2 linked regions of the Homo sapiens genome follow. The protein of the gene in region 2 interacts with the protein of the main gene of each other region in a biochemical or structural test. Each region holds a gene or a part of one and is shown on either strand. Other genes may lie near its edges.

Region 1 (4,525 bases), on a different chromosome or scaffold from region 2:
CCAAGCGGAGGTGGGTGGAGGCACGGGGAGGGGGCAGATTGGACCGGTGGAGGTGGGTAGAGGCAAGGGGAGGGGGCAGATCGGACTGGCTCCAGAAGCACAGGCTGCGAGCGAGACCTCTGACCCAGCATTCACCTCTAAGTTGGCCACTGACCTTGGGCAAGACACTTAATTGCCATGGGCCTCAGCTTCCCCTTCCTTAAAATGGAACCACAAGATTTTCTTGGCTTACCGCACAGGGTTTGCACAAGAATTATTCCAGAGGATGTAAGTGCATGCCCTTGACAAGGCATACGGCTTTTTCTTTTTTCTTTTTTTTAATTTATAATAGAAAAAGTGTTTCCTTCCAGGAACTTTTTTTTGGGGGGGGACAGAGTCTCGCTCTGTCGCCCAGGCTGGAATGCAGTGGCGCGATCTGGTCTCACTGCAACCTCCGCCTCCTGGGTTCAAGAGATTCTCCTGCCTCAGCCTCCTGAGTAGCTGGGATTAAAGGCATGCACCACCACGCCTGGCTAATTTTTGTTGTTGTTGTTTTTTGTTTTTTTTTTTAGTAGAGATGGGGTTTCATCATGTTGGTTCGGCTGGTCTCAAACTCCTGACCTCGTGATCTGCCTGCCTCGGCCTCCCAAAGTGCTGGGAATACAGGTGTGAGCCACCGTGCTCAGCTAGCCAGGAACTTTTTTAACTAGTTTTTTTTTTCTTATTTATATTATTATGCTAATATTATATTATGCTATTATACTTGTTGGTAGTGTTTTGGGGGTTTTTGGTTGTTTCGTTTTGTTTTCCAAAGAGGCATAAAGCTTGGGGGATTTTTTTTTTTTTTTTTTTTTGAGACAGTGTCTTGATCTGTTGCTCAGGCTGAATGCAGTGGTGCGATCACAACTCACTGCAGCCTCAAACTCCTGGGCTAAAGCCATCCTCCTGCTTTAGCCTCCCCAGCAGCTGGGACTATAGGCATGTGCAACCACGCCCAGCTAATCTTTAATTTTTTGTAGAGACAGGGTTTCACTGTGTTGCCTAGGCTGGTCTCAAACTCCTGGGCTCAAGCGATCCTCTTGCCTCAGCCTCCCAAAGTGCTAGGATTACAGGTATAAGCTACTGTGCCAGGGTGAGGCATAAAGTTTTTTGTTGTTGTTGTTGTTTTGTTTTTGTTTTTTGAGACCAAGTTTCACTCTTGTTGCCCAGGCTGGAGTGCAATGGTATGATCTTGGCTCACCGCAACCTCTGCGTCCTGGGTTCAAGTGATTCTCCTGCCTCAGCCTCCTGAGTAGCTGGGATTACAGGCATGCGCCACCATGCCCAGCTAATCTTTTTGTATCTTTAGTAGAGATGGGGTTTCTCCATGTTGGTCAGGCTGGCCTCGAACTCCCAACCTCAGGTGATCCGCCCGCCTCGGCCTCCCAAAGTGCTGGGATTACAGGCGTGAGCCACCACACCTGGCCCGGCATAAAGTTTTAATTTAAGCAAAAAGCAAGTAATAAAAGTACTGTCAGCCACGGCCTATTGAGGGACCACATGCTGTGTTCTAAACACTTTCCAGGAATTATCTCATTTAGGTCTCCGGACAATCTTGATGGAAATTCTCCCCACTTTACAGATGAGAAAACTGAGGCTGAGGGAGGGGGTTGCCCAAGGTCACAGAGGTAGCAAGTGTTAGACATGTGGTTTGTATCTAGGTCTATCTGGTTCCAAAGTCCATGCTGCTAACCATTTCACCACATCAGAATGTCAAGGACAGCTCATCTGAAAGGAAAAAGCCTCAACAAGGCAAGAGGTGGGTTGACGCTATGAGAAATGCTGGGTCCACAGAGCCCACTGCCAAGTGCTGACTGTCAGGTCCGGCCACAGTGTCTCAGCATTTTCTGCCCAAGCAGACATGCGCAGAGTGGGAGGCTGCATGCAGTTAGCGAGGAGCGGCCCACACTCAGACCCGCCAATGGCCATGCCCAGCAGCCATGCGAGCTGGTGCCTGCCTGGCCAGAGGTGGAAATCCTCTCCGTGGTGCTGGGTGTGCCCATGGCCATGGCACATGGAAGCTCTGGCTGTTCCTTCCCGTCCTGGGTGGCAGCTTCCGTGGTGCCCTCTGGGCTCCTTGGGGTTTCAGGTCCCTGGGTTGGCCTGGCCACACTTCCCCTCTCGGTCATCTTTGCACCTAGCTGCTCCGTGGTAACTGAGGCAGGGGAGCTGCTTCCCAGCCTCCCTGGCTCTGGCCTTGGCCTCTCCTGCTGTAGGCCATGTTCCTCCGTGAGAGTCCAGGTATCTGGGAAGATGGCCTGCCGGTCCACTGCCACTACAGCTGGCTCTGTTACTTCTTGGAAGCTTCGAGCAGCTCCAGAGGGGGGCATTCTCTCAGGCCCGAATACCTCCGAAGCCCATGGCTGCTCCCATGTGGCAGCCAAGGCCTCCTCTGGGCACGAAGGGCTGGCTGGTGGCCCCTGGGGCTCCCCAGGCTCTTGGAGAGCTGTGCTCCCAGCACAGGGTACAGTGTGGCAGCGGGGAGCCCCAGAGAGCTCACTTGTGATGGTCGGCAGGTGCCTCCAATCTCGACCCTGACTCTCTGTGCCCACTGCCCACAGAGAACCCTCCACAGAGGGAGACCTTGAGTTGAAGGTGTCAGGCATCACCCCAAGACCAGCCAAATCAAGCCAGCTGGGGGCTACAGGAGGTAGAAGGCCTCGTCCACTCTGCTCAGTACAAGGGAACTCCGGAGTGTGGCCCTGGCCTCGAGGGGAGGGTATAGTGGTGGGTGGCAGAAATACAGATGGCATGGGAGGAGGAGAAGGAGGAAGGGAGCAGTATGAGGACGGAGCAGAGCTGGACAGCCCCGGGGCACTCAGAGCCACAGTGGAGGAGCTGGTCTGGAGAAGAGAGAAATGCAGAGGGGAGAGGAGAGAGAGAGATGAGGGGAGTGAGGACGGCTGCACCTTGCAGGCGGTGGGCTCGGCCTTAGGGCTGACCAAGGTGGCTGCAAAGCTGACGCACAGGACTGACCCTTGAAGGAGACCCAGACCCCAAAAAAGCTTCCCTGGGCTTTGCGTGCTTAGCCCTCACCAAACCCAAGCAAGAGAAAGCAGCCACCAAGCCGTGCCTGTGGAGCCACCCAGGGAGGGTATGAGAAAGAAAAGACCACGGTAAGGTGGACAAATGGGGAGCCAGGTGGCTACGGAAGACAGCCCCAGGCACAAATGGAGGGAGAGCCAGCCCCAGGGGCTGCTGAACCCGCCTCGGACACTGGCCCAACTCGGCCATGTCCCTCCGGACAATCCCAGCTTTCCTACACCCCAAGTCCTCTACGTCTTCCACATCCTTGCTCCAGGGATCTGACTAAAACCACTGCTGCTTCTCCTGGCATCAGGACACAGGCTGTCTGAGAAAACGGCAGCCTTAAAAGCACCGGGGCACAGCTCCCTCAGGCCAGGCCCTGAATCCAACTTACTTGCTTCTGACCATGGCTGCTCAGAACCACTGGCCTGGAGCTGGAACTATAGCACGCAAGGGTCACAGGGCCAGGCTCAACCCTCCACCCCAGCCACACTCCTGTCTCCCACCATGAAACCTCAGCTGAAGGGAGGCTAGGAGACACCATCAGGGCCAAGGGTGCAGGGACCGTTCACTCCCCTCTCATATTCCCTAGGTCATGCCCCAAAGGTCTCCAGCTGACCCACGTGGAAGTATGAAGTCAGCAGCTGCTGGTGAGTTCTGTCAATATCAATCCCCAAGGAAACACTGAATCCTCTAAATTAAACATCTCAGGCCTGGCAGGACTGGGGAGGCCCAGCAGGGGAGGGGAAGGGCAGGTACCTCGTGCAAGCCTGGCCCCATGGTTTCCCACAGACACGCTCGTGGGAACTCAGAGGCCCTGGAGGGCGAGAGGGAAGGATGGGAGAAGAGTAGCAAGGGAGGCTTGTGGATTCAGGATCAGAGGCAGAAAGAAAGAGGATGTGTTGAGGACAGCTAGCGTGGGAGATGGGGCTCCAGGGCAAATGACCTCCCAGGCACAGGCTCCCAAGTCCCACATGGCCCAGCAGAGAATGCCCTCCCCCACCCAGAGCAGCCATCAACACAAGGTTCTTTGTCCCAGCGTCCCAGCCTCCTGATCCCCTCGACCTGAGAGGCTGGGAGCACCCAGGGAGGAAGGAATGTCCCAGCTGAGCACTTCTCCAGCTTGTCTGCCTTCACTGGCTACTGCAATCCTCAGGCAGGCTGACCCGGCCCTCCCTCCCCATCTCCTGGCATCACAGCAAGGCCAGGGCATGACAGTGTCCCTGGCTCAGGGGCAAGGCACCCAAACACTGAGATGCCAAGATCCAGCTACCCACACTGAGGTAAGGGAGGAGAAGGATGAGGGAGGGGCGGCAGGGCAGGGAAGATGGAGGGTTCACAGGGCACCTTGAAATCCGACAGCGAAGCCATCAGCTCGTCCAGCTCCCTGGTGGCAGAGGAGGCCGAGATGCGTGTCTGCTGTTGGGTGGAGGTGACGCGCTGCGGGCTGCTCATCTCGCCCTGGTTCACAGTGATGGCA
Region 2 (5,106 bases):
CCATGAAAGATAAACAGGTTCATAGAAGGAAAAGTACATTCCTAGGCCAATAGTGAGCAAGTACAGTTGTCTCTTGGTACCCACAGGGTATTGGTTCCAGGACACCCAAGGATGCCAAAATCTGCAGATCCTTAATTAAATAAAATGGTTTAGAAAAAATAAAATATGGCCATGGCTCATGCTTGTTATCCCAGCACTTTGGGAGGCCAAGGTGGGCAGATCACTTGAAGTCAAGAGTTCGAGACCAGCCTGGCCAACATAGAGAAACCCCATATCTACAAAAAATACAAAAATTAGCTGGGCATGGCGGCGCATGTGTGTATCCCAGCTGCTAGGGAGGCTGAGGCACAAGAATTGCTTGAACCTGGGAGGAAGAGGTTGCAGCGAGCCGAGATGGTACCACTGCACTGCACTGGGCAACAGAGTGAGACTGTCTCAAAAAAAAAAAAAAAACAGAAAGAAGAAAATATATAAGATGGTGTAGAATTTACACATAACCTATGCACATCCTCCTGTACAGTACTTTAAATCATCTCTAGATTACTTGTAGTACCTAATACAAGGTAAATGCTTGTAAATCATTGTTATACTGTATTGGTTTTTATTTGTACTTTTATTGTTATTTTTATTATTTTTTTGAGACAAAAGTCTCACTCTGTTGCCCAGGTTGGAGTGCAGTGGCGCGATCTTGGCTCACTGCAAGCTCCGCCTTCTGGGTTCACGCCATTCTCCTGCCTCAGCCTCCCGAGTAGCTAGGACTACAGGCGCCTGCCACCATGTCTGGCTCATTTGTTTTTTTTTTTGTATTTTTAGTAGAGAAAGGGTTTCACCATGTTAGCCAGGATGGTCTCGATCTCCTGACCTTGTGATACGCCCATCTCAGCCTCCCAAAGTGCTGGGATTACAGGCGTGAGCCACCACACCCGGCCTTATTGTTTTACTTTTATTTCTTTTTTTGAGACGGAGTCTTGCTCTGCCACCCAGGCTGGAGTGCAGTGGCGCAATCTCGGCTCACTGCAACCTTCGCCTCCCAGGTTCAAGCGATTCTCCTGCCTCAGCCTCCTGAGTAGCTGGGATTACAGGCATGCACCACCATGCCCAGCTAACTTTTTGTATTTTTAGTAGAGATGGGGTTTCACCATATTGGCCAGGCTGGTCTCCTAACCTCAGGTGATCCGCCTGCCTTGGCCTCCCAAAGTGCTGGGATTACAGGCGTGAACCGCCGCACCCGGCCTTGTTATTGTATTTTAAAAATTAGTATCTACCAGCCGGGTGCGGTGGCTCACACCTGTAATCCCAGCACTTTGGGAGGCCGAGGCAGGTGGATCATGAGGTCAGGAGATCGAGACCATCCTGGCTAACACGGTGAAACCCCGTCTCTACTAAAAATACAAAAAAATTAGCCAGGCGCAGTGGCGGGCACCTGTAGTCCCAGCTGCTTGGGAGGCTGAGACAGGAGAACTGCTGGAACCCGGGAGGTGGAGCTTGCAGTGAGCCGAGATCATGCCACTGCACTCCAGCCTGGGGAATAGAGCCAGACTCCATTTCAAAAAAAAAAAAATTAGTATCTACCACTTCATAGGGTTGTTGTGAGGATTCAACAAAATAATGTACTTCTCACAGCGTATGTGTGCGTGTTAGCTGTCACTACTATATAACTTTATGGTGTGTATAAGAGCCTAATGGGGCCCTGACAACCCACCATGCTCTAAGGAGAACCTGCTTTGCCCTTTTTATCCTGAAGATTTAGGTGGTGTGTGCCTGTGATCCCAGCTACTTAAGAGGCTGAGACAGGAGGATCGCCTGAGCCAGGGAGGTCGAGGCTGCAGTGAACCGTGATTATGCCACTGCATTCCAGCCTGGGTGACAAAGCGACAGAGCAAGACCCTATCTCAAAAAAAAAAAAAAACAATCCTGAAGACTTAGGCCCCTATGTATTTACTACCTCCCTGCAATCTTCCACCAGAAGTAGAAGGCACTGGCCATTTAAATTACTGGCAACCACTAGAGAAGAGAATTACGGTGCCTTAGCTATGGAACCACTTATGATCCTGCTTACAGTCTAGGTTTTAGATTTGGTCGCTGACTTGATGCTGCTAGACTCCAACTGCCTGAAACGAGCGGCTCTCCTGGACTGCTTGCTAGAAGCTTAAAGGTATTGGGTTGGACTCCATTGCTTGTTCATGGCCTAGTGGCAGTGGTGGTGGCCTTGGGCCTCAGGTTGTGATTAATCAGACACTCTGATGTGGAAACATGAGGCTGGTGGAATATTCACCTGATACAGTGAGGGTGGGAGGGAACGGGGACCCAGAAAGGGTCAGACAGAGAACAAAGTAATATCTCTGGGCCTTTTTACCCTGGAAAGGAATTTCAGGTGGGTCAAACCCCACCAGCGTTCTCCAAAACTAGGCAGAGGAAAAACCTAGGGGAAGCTGTTGGTTCAGAATTGAAGATGCTGGAAGTGGGTGAGGACCCTGTCAGAATGATGGAGAAAGAACAGGCATCCCCACCGCATCTCCAGAACCCAAAGGCTTTAAAGGGAGCAGTGACTTGATTTATATCCAGTGCTTTATTAAAGATAAATAGTCTCATAAGAGGAGAAGTAAATGTGTTTGCAGGCCAACAGAGAGTCCATGTATATGAGAAAGAGATGCGTGAGGTCCCTGATCTGTGCTCTGAGGGGGTGGTCAGTCAGGCAGGGCTTGGGCCAACCAGTAAGGCAGATGAGGGTCCCTGTCCTGGGGGACTCACTGCTCCTGGGTGCCCCAGGAGATGTAGTCTGGCCGTGTGGCCGCATGGTACTCATCGATGAGCTGCTGCACAATCTCCCTGGATGTGTCCATCTCATCAAAGTTGTCCTTGAACATGTCCTCCTTGCGGAACTGCTCCAGGAAGGCCTCCCGCTTACGCAGCTTGTCATACTGGCGACAGGTTCTCTCGAAGAGCTTGGGGTGTGCAGAAAACAGGGGTTACAAAGAACTTCAAAGAATAACGTGGCCCAGAAAGCTGGGGAACCAAGGCTGGGCTATGCCCACAGCAAAAAAGCTAGAAGCAGGGCCAGCAGATGCAGAGAGGTGAGGTATAGTCAGGAAACTGATTCAGGGAAAAAAGGTGCAAACTTTGAGACTCACCGAGGAGATGCTGGTGTGGTTGGCCATCATGAGCCCGCTGACCCGGTGGGCCGAGGGCAGGTAGGGAGACTTCCTCGACAGGGCCACCTGGATGCTGGCGGGGCCCCACGGGATGAAGTTGGCCAACTTGCGTTCCCGGATCCTCTGCAAGCTCTTGTGGACCTGGGGTGGGCATAGGAGCAGTGGAGGTGGCCTCTCCTCTACCCCTGCAGGTCCAGGGTGTGGGATGAAGGGGCCTCCCCTACCTGGGTGGGGTCCACCTCTCCCTGGATGATGTTGAGGATGGCGATGTAGCAGTGGTTGGTCTGGCGGTCTCGGCCTGTGGACACCATCACGTTCTTGGGCTGCAGCAGCCGCCTCATGACATCCAGGACCGTGGTCTTCCTCACGCTGGCCACCTGATAGGACAGTGAGACAGGGACCCGGCCAGCGCTCAGGGCACAGTCCCCCTTTGGCTTCTCTTTGGCAGAAGCCAAAGGCAGAGGGAGGGTGGAGAGCAAGTCAGCAAGAAAGTCGCCCACTCTGTGCCAGTCCCTGAGCGCCGCGCCTTGGGGTCCACAAAGGGTAGCTCCTGGGGCAGTGGGGAAGAGAGAAAGGCTAGGACAGGGCCTGTTGGGCCCAGGGCCGGCCTGGCCTGGGACACTGAAGGCTGCTCTTACTGACTGGTCCGTAGTGAGAGGGGTGTAGCCGGTCATGAGGAAGTGGAGCCGTGGGGTGGGAATGAGCGAGGCGATGAGGCCGATGAGGTCATTGTTCATGTAGCCAGGGTAGCGCAGGGTGGTGGTGCTGGCTGACATGATGGTAGACACCTGGGGACAGGCGTGCCATGTTATGGGCCTCAGCCTGGGTGGGACCTCCCTTCCCCAAATGACCCTCCAACAAGGAGGGCTTCAAGTCCAAAGGAGTCCAGGAGTGGGGGCCCACCAGCTGGTTGATCTGGGAGAAGGATGGGTTCTGGATGTGCAGGCGGTCTGTGGCAATCCGGTTCAGGGCTGTGTTGTCCAGCACCACCTGGGGGGACAGAAGAGGATCACAGATCAATGGGGATAAGAAAAACAGGAGCTCTGCCTGACCCTAGGCTCTGAAGCTTAATTTCCTTTGAGCTTCATGGCCAGAAAGACTCACTGGAAAGAGATTTGCACTGACCTAGGGCAAAGGAGGGCTCAAAATGGATTTTTAAATTTTTCTTTTCATCTTAATTATTTAAACAGTTTTTTTTTTTGTTCTTGTTTTTTGAGACAGGGTTTCACTTTGTCACCCCGGCTGGAGTGCAGTCAGTGACATGATCTCAGCTCACTGCAGCCCCTGCCTCTGAGGCACAAGTGATCCTTCTGCACATATCACCACTCCCGACTAATTTTTGTATTTTTAGTAGAGATGGGGTTTCGCCATGTTGCCCAGGCTGGTCTCGAACTCCTAAACTCAAACGATCCAACGACCTTGGCCTCCCAAAGTGATGGGATTACAGTCATGAGCCACTGCACCTGGCTAAAATGGATTTTTTTTAAATACATGAAAATGATTTAATAGACTCGAGTGGGTATGGGGTGTTGAGAGTTGGGAGAGGTAGAATCCAGGACTCACCACACAGTCTGCATTCTGCGTCAGCCTCTTGAGTGTGAGGAGTGAATTGTAAGGCTGGACCACCACATCGCTCATCTCGTCCTGGTTGGGAAACACTGAGTATGTCTGCACCAGCTTCTTAGGATACCTGGTGGGGGTTGGGGAAAGGATCAGGGCAACAGACCGAAGGCCTGGTGAACATGGCGCTCCCTAACAACTGTCCAGAAGCAGATAAATCTTGATGGCGAAACTGGGGTGGGGTCAAATCAGTAGAGAAGGGAGCCTTGACTTTTGGAAGTCTGTAGCCCTACAGGGGGAAGGGCAGAGACATCTTAGACTCTGGGCTTCCAAATTGAGACCTGGCCACACTCCCTCGACTTTCATCCAGGGCTCAGGTTCTAGGCTCCAGTTC

Evidence for each region. Proteins that work in one complex are often made in the same cells at the same time.
Region 1: the proteins of TUBG1 (region 2) and PXN form a complex in vitro, tested with the Homo sapiens proteins (one study listed by BioGRID).

The regions. Positions count from the first base shown.
Region 1 is NC_000012.12:120,217,231-120,221,755, forward strand, and holds part of PXN (paxillin), read right to left. Parts: coding exon 4,393-4,525; exon of another isoform or gene 4,085-4,392; intron 3,696-4,084; exon of another isoform or gene 2,862-3,695; coding exon 1,977-2,861; intron 1-1,976. UniProt on the Homo sapiens protein: Cytoskeletal protein involved in actin-membrane attachment at sites of cell adhesion to the extracellular matrix (focal adhesion). Recruits other proteins such as TRIM15 to focal adhesion.
Region 2 is NC_000017.11:42,612,683-42,617,788, reverse strand, and holds the end of TUBG1 (tubulin gamma-1 chain), read right to left. Parts: intron 4,843-5,106; coding exon 4,716-4,842; intron 4,143-4,715; coding exon 4,056-4,142; intron 3,941-4,055; coding exon 3,791-3,940; intron 3,530-3,790; coding exon 3,377-3,529; intron 3,294-3,376; coding exon 3,132-3,293; intron 2,946-3,131; coding exon 2,748-2,945; 3' UTR 2,551-2,747; downstream 1-2,550. UniProt on the Homo sapiens protein: Tubulin is the major constituent of microtubules, protein filaments consisting of alpha- and beta-tubulin heterodimers. Gamma-tubulin is a key component of the gamma-tubulin ring complex (gTuRC) which mediates microtubule nucleation.